2 separate regions of the Homo sapiens genome follow, and region 2 is linked to region 1. Evidence: fine-mapped expression QTL. Tissue or cell type: whole blood. Region 1 holds a variant in brackets; the other region holds the start of a gene. All regions are shown on one strand. Distances are between the middles of the regions.

Region 1 (8,180 bases):
TGCAAGCACAGACTGCTTGTGAAGCTATTATTATCATCATTCTCTTTAATATTACAGGGAGAGGCAACTCTGCAAGTGAGGGACAATTGACAATCACCAAATACAACTTGAACCAAAATTACAAGTAGTTTTAAATCATGGTGAATGTAAATTCTACCCGCAATGGCAACATCAAATAATTAATCAAAGATCTTTGAGAAGCACATAGACAAGAGAAGGAGAGAAATTAGCAAGCACTATTTATTAATACACTCCTAAAGTTTCCAACAGCAAAGATTATTTTTAAAAATTGAATCCCCTCGGTATTTCAGGAATGTTTAGTGATGGATATGGAAATGGCTCAGTTAAATGGGCCCTTCTGTGGATGAGGAAATATAAACAAGGAGAGACCCCAGAGACCAATTTGATTTTACATTTTTATAAATCATGAGCAAGAGAGAGAGCACAGAAATGCCTCCATTTGCAGGGTGACTGATTGCTAACCCAATGACAACTCTGGGAAGATTCCAAAATGCCACATGACTGAGTAGAAAAGTAGCAGATGACTTTTTTGATAGGCAAATATATAATGGAAAAAATCAAATGGTTCTTTATAAAGTAATAGGCTCTAAGTTCTCAGTTCTAAGTGCCTGTAGAATTTTACTAAGGAAAAAGCCAGCACAACGATAAACATCATCAGGAAGGATACTATTAAACCATCAGGCACAAAACGAGTACCCCAAAGTCAGTTTCTTCCGCTTCTTCCCTTAAATCAATGATGAAAACAATGAACCCTACTCTGTCATCTTAACCTCTGCAAAACCACAAAGCATTTATTATCACTGGACTACTTAATTTCTTGCCATTTAATCTCAAGAAAGCTACAAGAACCCCGGAAGTTAAAAGTTAAATTTAAAAAAAGAAAGCTACAAGAGACTTATATAAGCCCCAAAAAAGACAATTAAAATGAGTAAAGCAAGGGAATGGTTTGACAGCAAACTAACAAAAGGTCTTCTCAGGCTACGGAAAGATATGCCTGCAATCCATGAATAAGATAAAGTGACCTCAGACTCCACAGCAAATCCCGAAATGTAAGAACTAAGAAACAACGCTTAGAGGCTACAAGGGGTAAATTCAGGACAAATCAAAGGTGTAACTTTGTGAAAAGGGTGTTAAACAACTTCTTATTCCAAGAGATGGTGCCAGAAGCATGATTAGGTATAGGAAGAACTTAGATAAATCCACATATGGTGGCTTTGGGGAAATCAGGGCAGTTCTGTGGGACAGAACTAATTTTTTAAAGCTGACCCGGAAGACAAGCAATAACTGCTTCATGACATGATTGGGGCTGCTGTCACAGAGAAGCCATTGAGAGCCCTTCCTGTGGGCTCCGAACAGCACCGGACTGAGGAAGGGTCACTGTGGGAACAGGCGGAGCCTCCTTCCTGGCTGTACTTGGCGACTCTTGGATTTTCCACTCCTGTGCCGTCCACAGAAAAAGCACAGACTTGCTCTCTCAACTCGCCCCTCCTCAAAACCTGGGTTCGCACCTCATGTCTTCAGCTCAGGCAACTTCTAGGGCCTGGAGCATTCTTTTTTCCTCTCACCTTCTCCCACCCAGAACACCTACCCGGCCAACCTCTATTCACCTTTCAAGCCTGTGCAGAAGCGTGGCTTCTCTAAGAAATGTTTCAAAAGCGACATAGCACTCCAAGAAGTGTAGGTGTGGATATCACAGGCTCTCTCAAGAGACTATCTGGCTCCTGACTGTGCCGCTGCCATTGTCTTGCTGTGTGATGCTGGGCAAGTTACCTAACCTTTCTGTGCTTCAGTATCCTCATCTGTAAACTGGAAATATTAATAATTACCTACCTCTAGGGGCATTATGAGGCTGTAATGTTGTGATAGAACAAGAAATATATATCTGGTTTTTGTCTGACATAAAACTCCTAAAACCCTTGGAATTTCCTGAGTAGATGGGGTGGGAGGAACATCTTTTTTTATTAATAATAAGCTCCTTTCAAGCACACCTGAATTTATGCTAATAAGGTGACTCTTGAATGGACACTGATTGCCAGAGAAACCAACCATGTAATTAGAGGATTGGAACTTTTAGCCCCATCCCAACCTCCTAGGAGGGGAGGACTGGGGATTGAGTTAATTACCAATGGCTACTAATTTAATCAACCATGCCTATGTAATGAAACCTCCATAAAACCCTAAATGACACAATTTGGAGGGCTTCCAAGTTGGCGCCACATACTCCCATCCCCATCCTTTGCCCTATGCATCTCTTCCATTAGGCTATTTCCGAGTTGTATCCTTTATAACAAACTGGTAATGGTAAAAGTTGTGTTCTGTGAGTCATTCTAGCAAATTATCGAACCTGAGGAGGGGTTGGGAACCCCCCCCTATAGCCAGTCAGTCTGAAGTACAGGTCACGACCTGGGACTTGCAACTGGTGTCTGAAGTGGGGACAGTCTTGTGGGACTGAGTCCTTAACCTGTGGGATCTGACGCTAACTCCAGGTACGTAGTGAGTTAAACTGTAGGAGGTCCAGTTGGTACTCATTGGGAATTGGAGAACTGGCTGGTATACAAAAAGACCCTACATATTTGGCATTAAAAGTGGTGTGAATGTAGAGAAAATAGGTTTTAATTTTAGAACTGTAAAAGATTTTTCATTTAAAGAACTTAGGATGGTGTCTGATATGTGGCAAGCACTCAACAAATATTGACTCATTATTGTTTGCCATGTGACTTTTTGTGCTGATTAAATATTTGTGAAATATTTAACCCAGAATCTGGCATGTAGTTAGAGCTCATATTACTAATTAAGTTCATTTCCAAAGACTGGATATGTAATTTCAAGCACATATTTGTTTGGGGGAAAAAAACGCCTAGCCATTAACATCATTTGGCTATCTTGTGTGGCTTTTTACACAAGGAATTTTCATCTTTTTACTGCCATTATTAATAGAGAAGCCCCTTCAAGAAAATACCACCAACCCTGCTTATTATCATTTTTTGAGCATGTAACAATGAGTGTCTATTTCTTCTGCATTCATTAAGCACCTACTATGTGCCAGGCACCATGCTGGGTGCTGGAAACACAAAGAGGAATGTAACTTAGCACCTGGGCCTCAAGGAGCACTCTTTCCAGAAGGTGAAGGTGGCGAGGGTTGGGGGGTAGGGGGAGGGGAGACAGACAAATACATATTGACTGACAAATATAATGAAGAAAAAGAAAGCTGATTAAAGAACTGGGGAATAGCAAACAGTCCTATTTTTGAAATAATTTTTCTAGAATGAATGCATAATGATATCTGTGTAGAGTTACATTTCATTCCATTCTTATATAATATTAAAAGATGTTTTTAAAAGATAAGGTCATTACACTAATAAGAACAGCTTACTTTTTTTTTTTTTTTCAGGGATGGAGCATGTGGTAGGCAGAATAATGGCCACCCCACCAAAGCTTTCTACAGCCTAATCCCTGGATCCTGTTACACTACCTGGCAAAAGGCTTTGTGGATGGACTTAAGGTTATCCAGGTAGGCCCAGGACAATCACGTGGGCCCTTAAAAGTGGACAAGGAGGGCCAGGCATAGTGGCTCACGCCTGTAATCCCAGAACTTTGGGAGGCTGAGGTGGGCAGATCACTTGAGGTCAGGAGTTCAAGACCAGCCTGGCCATCATGGCGAAACCCGGTCTCTACTGAAAATACAAAAATTAGCTGGGTGTGGTGGCACACACCTGTAATCCCAGCTACTCAGGAGGCTGAGGCACAAGAATTGCTTGAACCTGGGAGGTGGAGGTTGCAGTGAGCTGAGATCACATCACTGCACTCCAGCCTGGGCAATAGAGCAAGACTGTCTCTCTCTCAAAAAAAAAAAAAAAAAAAAAGGACATGGAGGGCAAAAGAGTCAGAGGAAGGAATGCAGTAGAAGAAAGGGCGGGAGAGATTCAGAGCTTGACTTGCCCCACTGTTGCTGGCTTTGCAGCAAGAACACAGGACCTCAGTCCTACAACCACATGGAACTGAATTCTACTGACAACCTGAATGAGCCTGGAAGTGGCTTCTCCCCAGAGCTTAGCCTTGCCAACACCTTGAAAAACTTGAAGCAGAGAAACCAGCTGAGCCCACCAGGTATCTGATCTACTGAACTGTAAGGATGACAAAACTGTATTGTTTTGGCTGGGCATGGTGGCCCATGCCTATAATCCCAGCACTTTGGGAGGCCAAGACAGGCAGATCACTTGAGCCAAGGAGTTCAAGACCAGCCCCAACATGGTGAAACTCTGTCCCTTAAAAAAAAACAAAAACAAAAACAAAACTTTATTGTTTTAAGCCACTAAATTTGTGGTAATTTGTTACAGCAGTCACAGACAACTAATATGGAGCAGAAGAGTAAATAAATGATGTCACTTGATTTGGGCCTGATATGCTTTTTTTCTTTTTCGGACATGGAGTCTCGCTGTGTCACCCAGGCTACAGTGCAGTGGTGTGATCTCGGCTCACTGCAACCTCCGCCTCCCGGGATCAAGCGATTCTCCTGCCTCAGCCTTCCAAGTAGCTGGGATTACAGGTGCCTGCCACCATGCCCAGCTAATTTTTGTATTTTTAGTAGAGATGGGGTTTTGCCATGTTGGCCAGGCTGGTCTTGAACTCCTGACCTCAGGTGATCCACCTGCCTTGGCCTCCCGAAGTGCTGGGATTACAGGTGTGAGCCACCACGCCCGGCCTGGGCCTGGTATGTTTGGGCTCTGTGTACCCCCACAAGTCTCATCTCAAGTTGTGATCCTAAGCGTTGGAGGTGGGGCCTGGTAAGAGGTGGCTGGATCATGGGGGCAGACTTCCCCCTTGCTGTTCTTGTGATAGTGAGTGAGTTCTCAC[G/A]AGATCTGGTTAAAAGTGTGCGGCACTTCCCCCTTGCTCTCTCTCTCTCCTGCTCCGCTATGGTAAGATGTGTTTGCTTCCCCTTTGCCTTCACTATGATTGTGCGTTTCCTGAGGCCTCCCAGCTATGCTTCCTGTACAGCTTGCAGAACTATGAGTCAATTAAACCTTTTCTTCATAAATTACCCAGCCTCAGGTGGTTCTTTATAGAAGTGTGGGAATGGACTAATACAGGGCCTTTGTCATATCATTGGGATAATGGATCCAAGATTTCTCAGCAGAGGGTAATAATAGGGTTTAGAAACAGGGAATCAGCCAGGCAGTGGGCTCATGCCTGTAATCCCTGCACTTTGGGAGGGTTAAGATCACTTGAGCCCAGGAGTTTGAGACCAGCCTGTGCAACAAAGCAAGACCCTGTCTCTAGAAAAATATTTTATAAATTAGCTTGGTGAAGTGGCACACACCTGTGGTCCTAGCTACTCAGGAGGCCGAGGGAGGAGGATCCCTCGGGCCCAAGAGGTCAAGGCTGCAATGAGCTGTGATTGCACCACTGCACTCCAGCCTTGGCGTCAGAGGGAAACCCTGTCTCAAAACAAAACAAAAAAAAAACCAGAGTCAAATCTCTGACCGTGATACACAGATAGTTTTCTTCCCTGCTTAAAACTCTCCAGAGCTATACATTGCCTAGATCAGGGCTTTTCTAATGGTAAAATGTACACACATTCCCTGGAGACACTGTTAAAATGCAGATTCTGCTTCAGTGGGGCTGGTGAGGCCTGAGTGTCTCCACTCTCTTGCTTCTGCCACTCTCCACCCTCACCCTTTATCACCTTGTCACCAAGCCCTTCAGGATGCAGATTCATCTACCTTGTTGCAGATATTTTCCCAGAACCTGAAAGAATGCCTGAAATAGAACAGGTGCTCAATAACTATTTGTCAAATAAATGAATAAATTGATCTTGACTCTGAGTTTTTAGAAAACAGAAAAGGAAGAGCAGAAAGGGAAATCAGGGGCCAAGGGAGGCACTTGGAAGCACAAAAAAATGGGCGGGTTGGGGGGGGGGCGGTGGTCACAGAGTAGCAACTGGAGGAAAGGCACCTCTGCAACTGTTTGAAGTTAAAGATTTAGGTGACAGATTTACGGGTATCAGATTTCAGCCTGGAGAAACAAAAACAAACAAAAAAAAACACGGAGGACCCAGAAACAAATGATTCTAACTTGCTCAGAAAGTCATATGTGAACGCAACAATAAACTGCTGATTTTCTACAGTTTTCACTACATACACACAGACAGACACGCACACACGTGTGCATATACACAGGCATTGGTGGTTTCCTTTCCTCCACACTCCATTAATATCCGGCTTGTGACCTTGTCCTGTTGATATGGTGAAACTGGGATAAATTCAGATTCACACTCTTAGCTGCTCCAAAGTGGCCTCATCAATGAGTGCTCTTCTGTAAACTCAGGGAAGGAAGTGAATGATGTGTCTGCATGTACGGCCAACAGAAATCTCAGCTGTCTGGTCTGGCATGAAAAGTCCCCTGCTTTATCGGGGTGGGAGGCCACCCCCAGGGCTGGGCAGCTTGCCTCCAGCTAGGGTTGTTTTTGTTTTGGTTGCAAAGTCACCAAGACCTCCAGAGAAACAAAGCACTGAGTTTTGTTTTTTGTTTTTTGTTTTTTTTGTCTTGTTTTGTTCTAATGAGTCAAACTTACCAGGGGACACAAAGCTGAAGTCTGCCCACAATATTTTTATGCTTTCCCCACATGAAGCAAAGTTCTAGCCAACAGCTCCCTTCCTTTTCCCACATGAGCTAATATTCTGTAGCTCCCTAGCCATGACTCTGTTTATAGCCTTGGGCTTCAAGACCAGTGAGGAGAATTGTGCTCATTATAAGACATGCCTTCCCATCAAATGTCACTTTTTTGTTTGTTGTTTTTAGGAAGATTATTTAGAAAATGAGGTAAAGAGAACCGCCCTTTTTTTTCTCTGGTGGAGAACAAACATCTGGACTTTCCCTACCTCTGATTTCAGTTTCATGACAACACTGAGCATGTGACCTGGATCTATTTCAGGGGAAACTGCAAGAACCCAGGGTTTCACCCAAAAATGAGAAGCCCATTTATTTCTGTTTTCCTGTTTCTCATGGCCACAGAGTGCACTGAGCCCTGCTGTTAGTGGCTCACTAGAATGAGGAGGTCAGACCAGGAGGAACTGGAGAAATAAGGTCCTCTCTGCACAAGGGCGTGAGTCATTTCTAAGAGGGTGTCCTGGAGAACCAAGCTTGAAGTTTGCATGTTTTTCCCCATATGACAGCAATCTTGAAAACCTTTCAAAAGGTCAGTGGAACTGACTTTGAGGGGCCCTCTGCATGACTGTGTATGAGGTCTGGAAGGAAGGAGGTCAGGGGGAAGCTGTGACACAGCTTCTGGCTAGGGCTGTGGCAAACAGGGTGCCATTAGGAGTGCAGCGCGAGTGGCTGCCAGCCCGTTCACAACACCACATGTGCGGTGCTCTCAGCCCAAGGGGCCCTCTGGGAGCTGACAGGAACACTGAGTTCATCCATCCAGGCCCATCCAGGGAGGTTCCTGAGACTCACTCCACCTGGGGGTGGGGGCTATTTTAGCTGTTACTGCATGGACTAAATACAAGAACCCTCAGCACTTTGGACCTGCTGCTTTCTCACTCAAACATTTCCACAGAAAAGTGACAGTAAGCTTGTTACTGAATCTAATTACAAGCCCAGTGTTCCCAGTGCGCAGGGCTCATGTGATACATAGTAAGTTCTACTACATGACCAGCCAAATCCTTTCACTTATTTCCTGTTACAGATGCTTGAATGCAGAGGTAGGAGCAATGGGAAACAGCAAAGGGGGTGGGGATGTTTTGAATGGTCCAGAGCAAGATGAAATCTCTCCAAATCTTATGATCCAGCTGCTATTGGCCTTTTTTTCTTACAAAATTAATCTAGACTGGCCACAGTTCTGTGGAGGATGCTTTAGAATAGGGCAGCCATGTCCTACCAGAGCCATTATCTTTCCTTTGGTGAAATAAGGACGGCCATCATGTTTTCCCCTGGGGTTTTCTCAGGCTGAGTTTCAAGATCTCCCAAACTGTTATACTCTAAATTAGCCTCGAGGTGCTCAGTTCCTGAACTCCTGTTTTCTAAAGTCCTTAATCAAAGCTAGAGTCAAATAGCAAATTTTCAAAGAGAACTCACTGAGACCACATGCTCCCAACTGACATAATGGCCAATTCTAAGATCATCTCAAAGGTCTTCTGGAGCTCATTAAAGTGGGTGCC
Region 2 (8,180 bases), 53 kb before region 1:
TAGTAGAGACGAGTTTTCACCATGTTGGCCAAGCTGGTCTCGAACTCCTGACCTCAAGTGATCTGCCTGCCTCGGCCTCCCAAAGTGCTGGGATTACAGGCATGAACCACTGCACCCAGAGAAACTTGTTTAATCTTAAATGGGTCCTGTTAAGAACTCCTTCCTTCTCTTGTCACGCTTCAAGGCCCAGGAAAGACCTAGGCAAAACTCTTGGTGTGCTTTTGTTACCTTCCAGCCTTTGTATAAGGGCACTGGCTCTCTTAGCTTTTAATAGTTAGCTTAACCACTCAGTGCTGAAACAGTTGTTAGGGAGGCCTGCCTGTTCAGCCGTTAGGGAGACCTGGCCTGCCACAGAATGAGTAGGAGATGAGAGCACAGAGAGAACTAGTATAGACAGCTCTACTAAGAAGCTGGGCTGTGAGGAGTGGGTAGAGAAACCAGTGGCAACAGGACAAGGGTAGGAGAAGGGCAGAGTGAGGGTACCTGGCAGAAAGATGCAACAGCGGGCTAGAATCTGGCCAGGTTCTGCCTTCAAGCTGTTAACCTTGGACTGGGGCTGTGGCCTGAAGGAAGGGGTACTTATTTGAATGGGGTCAGCCCCCTTGCAATTCATCTGTCTGGAGGGGGCACTTTCTGATTCTCACAAGGGTACTGTATGTGTTAGCAGCAGCTATGCTAAAGGAGGATGCAAATAAATGGGACTTTAAAGAGAGAGAGATAGAGGAAGAAACAGAGAAAGAGATCAAACTGTTTAATTTTCACATCAGTGGAAATAATCTGGTTGAGAGGGTGTAGTTGAATAGGGAGGAGAAATGGTGATTGATAGGAGGGACCGGGGCCTACTCTATTGTACCACTCTATTGTGAAAAATGGATAGCAGATCTAGTAACTTAGATGTGATAGAAATCACTTAATAGAAAACAACTTTAATTCTGATTGAGTTTTCCTTCTGCTAGGATGACAGACCATTGATTGACCTTATTAATTCCTAGGGTTCCTCTACTCCCAAGGTTGTATGTACTCTTGATCTGGGGTCTTAGAATCATTGGGTTTTTGGCTCACCTAGTTGCCCTGAGATGTCTCCATCACTGTCACTTGACCCTTCTGCTGCTTCCAAGCTATGCCTGGGGCCCAGGAAGGTTTGGCACAGTGCCCCTGATCATCTCTGTCAAGCTGAACCATGTGGCCACTTCTCTTTGACTCCTGCTCTGCCCTGACACATTGCCAGGAAAAAGAGTTCAGGTGCCCTGGGCTGCAGGATCCATAGACTTCTCCCTTTGCCCACTCCTCCTAGCCTAAGGAAAATGTCTCAGTGGGGTTGGGGGCACTAGAGTGCTGCTGCTCTTTCTTTTGCTTCTCCAAAACATTTCGTCTAAGCCCTCACACCTTCTTTATATCAGCTAGCTTTTGCTACAAAACAAACCCCTAAAACTTACATCTATTATTTCTCACAATTTGGTGGGTCAGCTCAGTTAGGGCAGGAAGGTGTAGCACCTTTCTACTCTAAGTGTGGTCCTCAGACCAGGAGCATCAGAAGCACCCAGGAGCTTATTAGAAATGTAGTCTCAGGACCCAGTGCAGTGGCTCGTGCCTGTAATCCCAGCAATTTGGGAGGACGAGGCAAGAGGATTGCTTGAGGCCAGGAGTCCAAGACCAGCCTGGGCAACATAGCAAGACCCTACAATTTTTTTTTTTTTTTTTGAGATGGAGTCTCACTCTGTCGCCCAGGCTGGAGTGCAGTGGCACGATCTTGGCTCACTGCAACCTCTGCCTCCCGGGTTCAAGTGATTCTTCTGCCTCAGCCTCCCGAGTAGCTGGGACTACAGGCATGTGCCACCACACCTGGCTAATTTTTGTATTTTTAGTATAGATGGGGTTTCACCATATTGGCCAGGCTGGTCTCCAACTCCTGACCTCGTGATCCGCCTGCCTTGGCCTCCCAAAGTGCTGGGATTACAGGCGTGAGCCACCGCGCCCAGCCTAAAAAAAAATTTTTTTTAATTAGCCAGGCATGAGAAGGATTGCTTGAACCCAGGAAGTTGAAGCTGCAGTGAGCTATGATCACGCCACTGCACTCCAGCCTTCCACCAGCCTGGGTGACAGAGGGAGAGAAGACCCTGTCTATTTAAAAAAAGAAGAAGAAAGAAGAAAGAAGAAGGAGAAGAAGAAAGAAAAGAAATGTAGTCTCTCTGGCCCCACCCTAGGTGTAATGAATCATTTTCTGCTTTTTTTTTTTTTTTGAGATGAGGTCTCACTCTGTCACCCAGGTTGGAGTGCAGTGGCATGACCTCGGCTCACTACAATCTCCACCTCCTGGGCTCAAGTGATCCTCCCGCCTCAGCCTTCCAAGTAGTTGGGACTACAGGTGCACGCCACCATGCTTGGTTAACTTTTTTTGTGTTTTTGGTAGAGACGGGGTTTCACCATGTTGCCCAGGCTGGTCTTGAACTCCTAGGCTCAGGATACCCACCCGCGTCGGCCTCCCAAAGCGTTGGGATTACAGGTGTGAGCCACTGGGCCAGGCCCACTTTCTGCATTTTGACAGGAGCCTTCAAGCATTAAAGTTTGAGAAGCACTGGTCGAGGATCTATCTCCTTTCTCACCTGTCTGGCGGTCAGCAGGCTTGTTTGTCTGGGGGGTGGGGGGCCTCAGCTGGGAGGGCTTATTTTCTGAGCCATGTTGCTAACCCAGGCTTCTTCACGAGCCGATCTCAGGGTTCCAAAGAGCAGGATGAGGGCAATTCCCACAGCAGGAGTATTTTTCAAACCTTTGCTGTGTCATGTTTGCTACTGTCCCACAGGCCAATGCAAGCCACATGGTCATCCCAGAGTCAGTATGGGAAGGCATTGCCCAAAGGCAAAACAGAGGAGGGGAATACTTTGTGGTTATTTAAAAAACCTATCACACTTTCCACTATCAGAGTTGAGGCTTTTGGAGCGGAGGGCGGGGGGTGGGGGGAAGCGGGAAACACCAGCAACTATTTGCATTCTGCCCAGCCACACCTCTCCCCTCACACCAGCACAGAGCCACCTACTTGCTTAAAAGATGAGAGGAGGCCAGGCACAGTAGCTCAGGCCTGTAATCCCAGCACAAGGCCGAAGTGGGAGGATCACTTGAGCCCACGAGTTCAAGACCAGCCTGGGCAACATACAGACCCCGGTCTCTACAAAAAACAAACAAACAAACAAAATTAGCTGGGTGTGGTCCACATGCCTGTGGTCTCAGCTGCTTGGGAGGCTGAGGTAGGAAGATCGCTTGGGCTTGAGAGGTTGAGGCTGCAGTGAGTGGTGATAGTGCCACCGCACTCCAGCCTGGGTGACAGAGCCAGACCCTGTCTCAAAGCTTTTTAAAAAAGCCAGAGAGGAGGGAAAAGTGAAAACAGAAGGGAAAGTTGTAGATTAATATTGCAAAATCATATCCTTGCTATAAACGAGATGTGTACAGAGGTCAATGCATATATGAGTTTGGTAGTGGAAAAGTGAGAGATCGTCTAACATGGTTTCTTTATGAAGTAGGCAGTAAGGTCATGTGCTGAGAAGAGGTGGGTGGGGGAAGAGGGGTATCAGAAGTCTGAGGAGACTAGAGAAGGTTTGAAATCATCATAATGGAACTGGAGACTGGGAAGTGACATGAAGAACCTAAGATTTCAGCAACCATTTCAGGTTGATGATTATGAGGTTATCTTGATGCTGATCTGTTCTGTGGGCTCCCAAAGTGCTGAGATTACAGGCGTGAGCCACTGTGCCTGGCTCACACCTGTGGAGAAATGTTTCGCAGTGGTGTTTGCAGGCACAGAGAAAGCCAAAAGCAGGGTTTGGGGGATTTTGCTAGATGAGTAATGAAAAGGCAGAGGGCACGTGAGTTTAGCTTATTGGAGGGAGTGTTATTAAAATAATGGTATGGCATCTTTCAGCTGAATATGAAAAATTGAGAAGAAAGTGGGGGTGGTGGTCAAAAAGTGGAGGTTGGAGAATAGGGAAGATTTGAACAACTGGCTGGAAGAAGAGGGGAATTGTGGAAAGAAAACGAAATGCTTGAGTCAGTGGTTTCACAGGTGGAGTAGCTTCCGTGATGAAAAAGACCAGTGGAGAGCATTGCATATGTTCTCACTCTTCCAATTTGAACACCTTCCCCTGGTGGAGATAAGTAGATATGCTTTCTATGTTTTATTAACTTTACAACACCTTCCCCAAGCTGGTGAAAGGAAGCTCTCACTTCCTTATTCATTAGCCTGATGAAACAGAGCAAAATGTATCTTTTTTGGTTCTGTTTTGAATTTTAGTAACTCTAGTCTTCATCTGCCTGTTGGACTTCCTGTCTCTTTTTCATCTATCTTTGGGTACACATTTCTTCTTACGGGTCCTTTTAAACACCGAGCTCCTGAGAAAGGTCACCATTCTACCACTTTGATTCTGTAAATGTCTTTTGCTCATAGGTGTCAGAATAGGCTGGGTTATACTGTGGTAACAACCCCCAAATCTCGCAATCCCAGGAGGTACATGGGTACTAAGAATTATTCACATTTTACAAATGACCAAACTGGGCCCCAGAGTATTGGTAAAATGTGCAGAGCCCATCAGCTGGTGAAACCCTAAGGAACACAACACTTAGAATTTCACAAAGGCTAGACTTTATGAAATGTGCTGCGTGGATGCAGTAGTATCTCCAACCCCCCTGGACCGCTCTGCCACGTACAATCTTCTATCTTTCAGTCCGGAACTCAGTAACACCCACTCCAGGGCTGATGGGGGCGCTGGATGTATAGTGGCGAGTGTTTATCTGCCTAGGATAGCGATGGCTAGGCAGGGGACATAAAACAGAAGAGGCAGTGACCTTCTCCGGGTGGGGTCTATGGCCCTTTACTGGGTACATTCTGTACACACAGGCCCCTCCTTTGCCTGAAGTCATTGATGAAGACTTCATTACGGAGGGTTTGGGGAAAGGTGGGGGTCTGGCTGGGTAAGCCGGCGTCCCAGCCCCGCTACAGCCCCGCCCAGATCTGGCAGAGCCGTGGGCGAACCCAGGCGGGCAGAAAGGCGGGGCGGGCGGCTGCCAAGCCGGCCAATAGGCGGCTCTCCGGCTGCTAAGCCGAGAGGGCAGGGGCGCCGTCAGTAGCACCACCGCCTTCCAAGTTTCCCCTTGTGGATGCGCGGCCCCGCGGCTCTGCTCCTCCCGGCGCAGAGGGGCCGGGAGAGGCCACAGGAGCGGACCTGGCACGGGATTTCTGAGGAACGGGAGAAGACTGGCGCCCGACCCGCTCTGGAGGGTCGGTGAACGATGAAGGGCCGGCGGCGGCGACGCCGAGAGTACTGCAAGTTCGCGCTGCTGTTGGTGCTGTACACGCTGGTGCTGTTGCTCGTCCCCTCCGTATTGGACGGCGGCCGCGACGGGGACAAGGGCGCCGAGCACTGCCCCGGCCTGCAGCGCAGCCTGGGAGTGTGGAGCCTGGAGGCGGCGGCGGCCGGCGAACGCGAGCAGGGAGCGGAGGCGCGGGCCGCCGAGGAAGGGGGCGCGAACCAGTCTCCTCGGTTCCCAAGCAACCTCAGCGGCGCTGTCGGGGAGGCAGTGTCTCGCGAGAAGCAGCACATCTACGTGCATGCCACCTGGCGCACCGGCTCGTCCTTCCTGGGCGAACTCTTTAACCAGCACCCGGACGTTTTCTACTTGTATGAGCCCATGTGGCATCTATGGCAGGCGCTGTATCCGGGCGACGCCGAGAGCTTGCAGGGCGCGCTGCGCGACATGCTGCGTTCGCTCTTCCGCTGCGACTTCTCCGTGCTGCGGCTGTACGCGCCGCCGGGGGACCCCGCTGCGCGCGCCCCGGACACGGCCAATCTTACCACGGCCGCCCTCTTCCGCTGGCGGACTAACAAGGTCATCTGCTCGCCGCCACTGTGTCCTGGCGCACCCCGTGCCCGGGCCGAGGTGGGCCTCGTCGAGGACACCGCCTGCGAGCGCAGCTGCCCACCCGTGGCGATACGCGCCCTGGAGGCCGAGTGCCGAAAGTACCCGGTGGTGGTCATCAAGGACGTGCGCCTGCTCGATCTGGGCGTGCTGGTGCCCCTGTTGCGTGATCCAGGCCTCAACCTGAAGGTGGTGCAGCTTTTCCGCGACCCGAGGGCGGTGCACAACTCGCGCCTCAAGTCTAGGCAGGGACTGCTGCGCGAGAGCATCCAGGTGCTGCGCACCCGCCAGAGGGGCGACCGCTTCCACCGTGTGCTGCTGGCGCACGGCGTGGGTGCTCGCCCCGGGGGCCAGTCTCGCGCGCTGCCCGCCGCGCCGCGCGCCGATTTCTTCCTGACCGGTGCGCTCGAGGTGATCTGCGAAGCCTGGCTGCGCGATCTGCTTTTCGCGCGCGGCGCGCCCGCCTGGCTGCGGCGCCGCTACCTGAGGCTGCGCTATGAGGACCTGGTGCGGCAGCCACGCGCCCAGCTGCGCCGCCTGCTGCGCTTCTCCGGGCTACGCGCGCTCGCAGCGCTCGATGCCTTCGCGCTCAACATGACTCGCGGCGCGGCCTACGGCGCCGACCGGCCCTTCCACCTGTCAGCGCGCGACGCCCGGGAGGCGGTGCACGCCTGGCGCGAGCGCCTGAGCCGAGAGCAGGTGCGCCAGGTGGAGGCCGCCTGCGCTCCAGCCATGCGTCTGCTCGCCTACCCTCGCAGCGGAGAGGAGGGCGACGCGGAGCAGCCCAGGGAAGGGGAGACGCCGCTGGAGATGGATGCCGACGGCGCCACGTAGCCTCCCATCCCTGTCCCCGGCACGGATCCGGGTAAGGTGGCCCGGGGCAAGGCAGGGACCGGGACTGGTCTTCCGGGAGCCTGGAATGGCCTGGGGAGGGGGAAGTGTAGGGGGGAGGGTACCATGCTGGATCCCATTCTATCAGATCAGGTCCAAGAGGATGGGAAAGTCCTGCTCGTAGAATTTGGTAGATTCATCGGAATCTCCAGCTTAGCCTCGCGCCTCCTTAGAGGGAGATCCTGAGATGAGAGAGGATATTTAGGCGTGACTGAGGTGGAAGCCAGGTCTCTGCATTCCCATTCCCCTGTATGAAGTAGGAGGTTTCAGAGGGCTGAGGAGAGTAGAGAAGGTTTGAAACAGTCATAATGAGCCGTGAGACTGGGAATTGACATGTGGAGTATAGGATTTCGGAAACCATTTGAGGTTGATGATTATGGAGTTATCTTGATGCCAGTTTGTCCTGTGAGGAGACTTTGCAATGGTGTTTACAGGCACAGAGAAAGCCAAAAGCAGAGAGTTTGGTGGAAAGGCATTGATTCTAACCCTACCTATCCCTAATCTTTCTGTTTCATGTTTCTTCTCTGTCTGTTTTATGCGCAGGCTCCAGGGCTTTTCTCCTGAATTTCCAAACATGCAGGCACAGTCCAGCGGCTCTTGCAACACTTCTTGCACATTGTGTGTCTCAGGCGCTTGTGTAGTGAATAGACTTGCTTTCCCCTGGCTCATGTGCGCCTCTCTGTCTCCCCTCCCCCTCCTTCCCTCTCTCATTTCCCCTCTCCCTCTCTTCCTCTTCCTCCCCCTTCCCCTCCTCCTCTCCCTTCCCCCTTCTCCCTGTAGCTGGCGTTTGCAGGATATTTGACCATATCCCATTCACATCAGGTCACAAAAGCTGCCTGGTCAGCTTCCTCTAGTGTCGACAAGACCTCAGGGTTGGGTGTCCCCCACTCCACCCCATCCGTTTGACAGATGGAGCCTTCAATTGGCAGTAGCAGTTTGTGACTGCAGGAGGAGCTTTGTGAAAAGACACTGCCCCCTCTTTTTTGTTTTTCCATTTTTGTTTTTTGTTTTTTTCTGTATATCTGAAGATGCTAAAGTGGGGCTTAAACAGTCTCAAAATGTGTTCTGTGTGGGTCAGTGTATGGCCTGAGGGAAGGGTTTGTTCTGCACAGTGCTGACCATAGGAGTCTACTTAGTGACATGGGAGTGTGTTTCCCCAAACTTTATGTGAGTTGGAAGGGTGCCGCCTTCTGCACTGTGCAGTCAGTCCAGAGGAGGAGGAAAAGTAGTGCTGGGTGGGCGGAAGTGAGTTAAGTTTCCATTCATTATTTTATAGTGTAATTCAGCATTCCCCTGAGATGAAGCTCTGAGGACAAACGTTGAAGATATTAATGAAGAGGGATTTTGTTGTTGTTACAGAACCAGGGTTTCAGAGTGATTTCAGA

Direction of the effects. Alleles are on the strand shown, and positions count from the first base shown. SD is a standard deviation of normalised expression in the study named.
For the expression in whole blood of the gene that starts at base 5,111 in region 2, allele A in region 1 goes with a higher level than allele G (small effect, 0.23 SD a copy in GTEx).

What was found. PIP is the estimated chance that this variant, and not a neighbour inherited with it, causes the effect.
Region 2: CHST7 starts here. The variant in region 1 is fine-mapped to the expression of CHST7 in whole blood (TOPMed, PIP above 0.99). The same link has a PIP of 0.9 or more in blood mononuclear cells and monocytes.

Annotation. Positions count from the first base shown.
Region 1 is chrX:46,621,851-46,630,030 of GRCh38, forward strand. All of the region lies in intron 14 of SLC9A7 (solute carrier family 9 member A7), which reads right to left. It overlaps LOC124905182 (a long non-coding RNA gene), which reads left to right. Exons shown (of 2, transcript XR_007068222.1): 1 at 1-2,507; 2 at 3,413-5,056. Among named protein-coding and RNA genes, the nearest start is that of CHST7, 52 kb to the left of the region's middle. The variant G/A (reference allele first, on the strand shown) is at 4,876.
Region 2 is chrX:46,568,655-46,576,834 of GRCh38, forward strand. It overlaps CHST7 (carbohydrate sulfotransferase 7), which reads left to right and starts at 5,111. Exons shown (of 2, transcript NM_019886.4): 1 at 5,111-6,769. The coding sequence starts at 5,278. The coding sequence ends at 6,738. RefSeq lists silencers at 6,129-6,178, 6,299-6,358.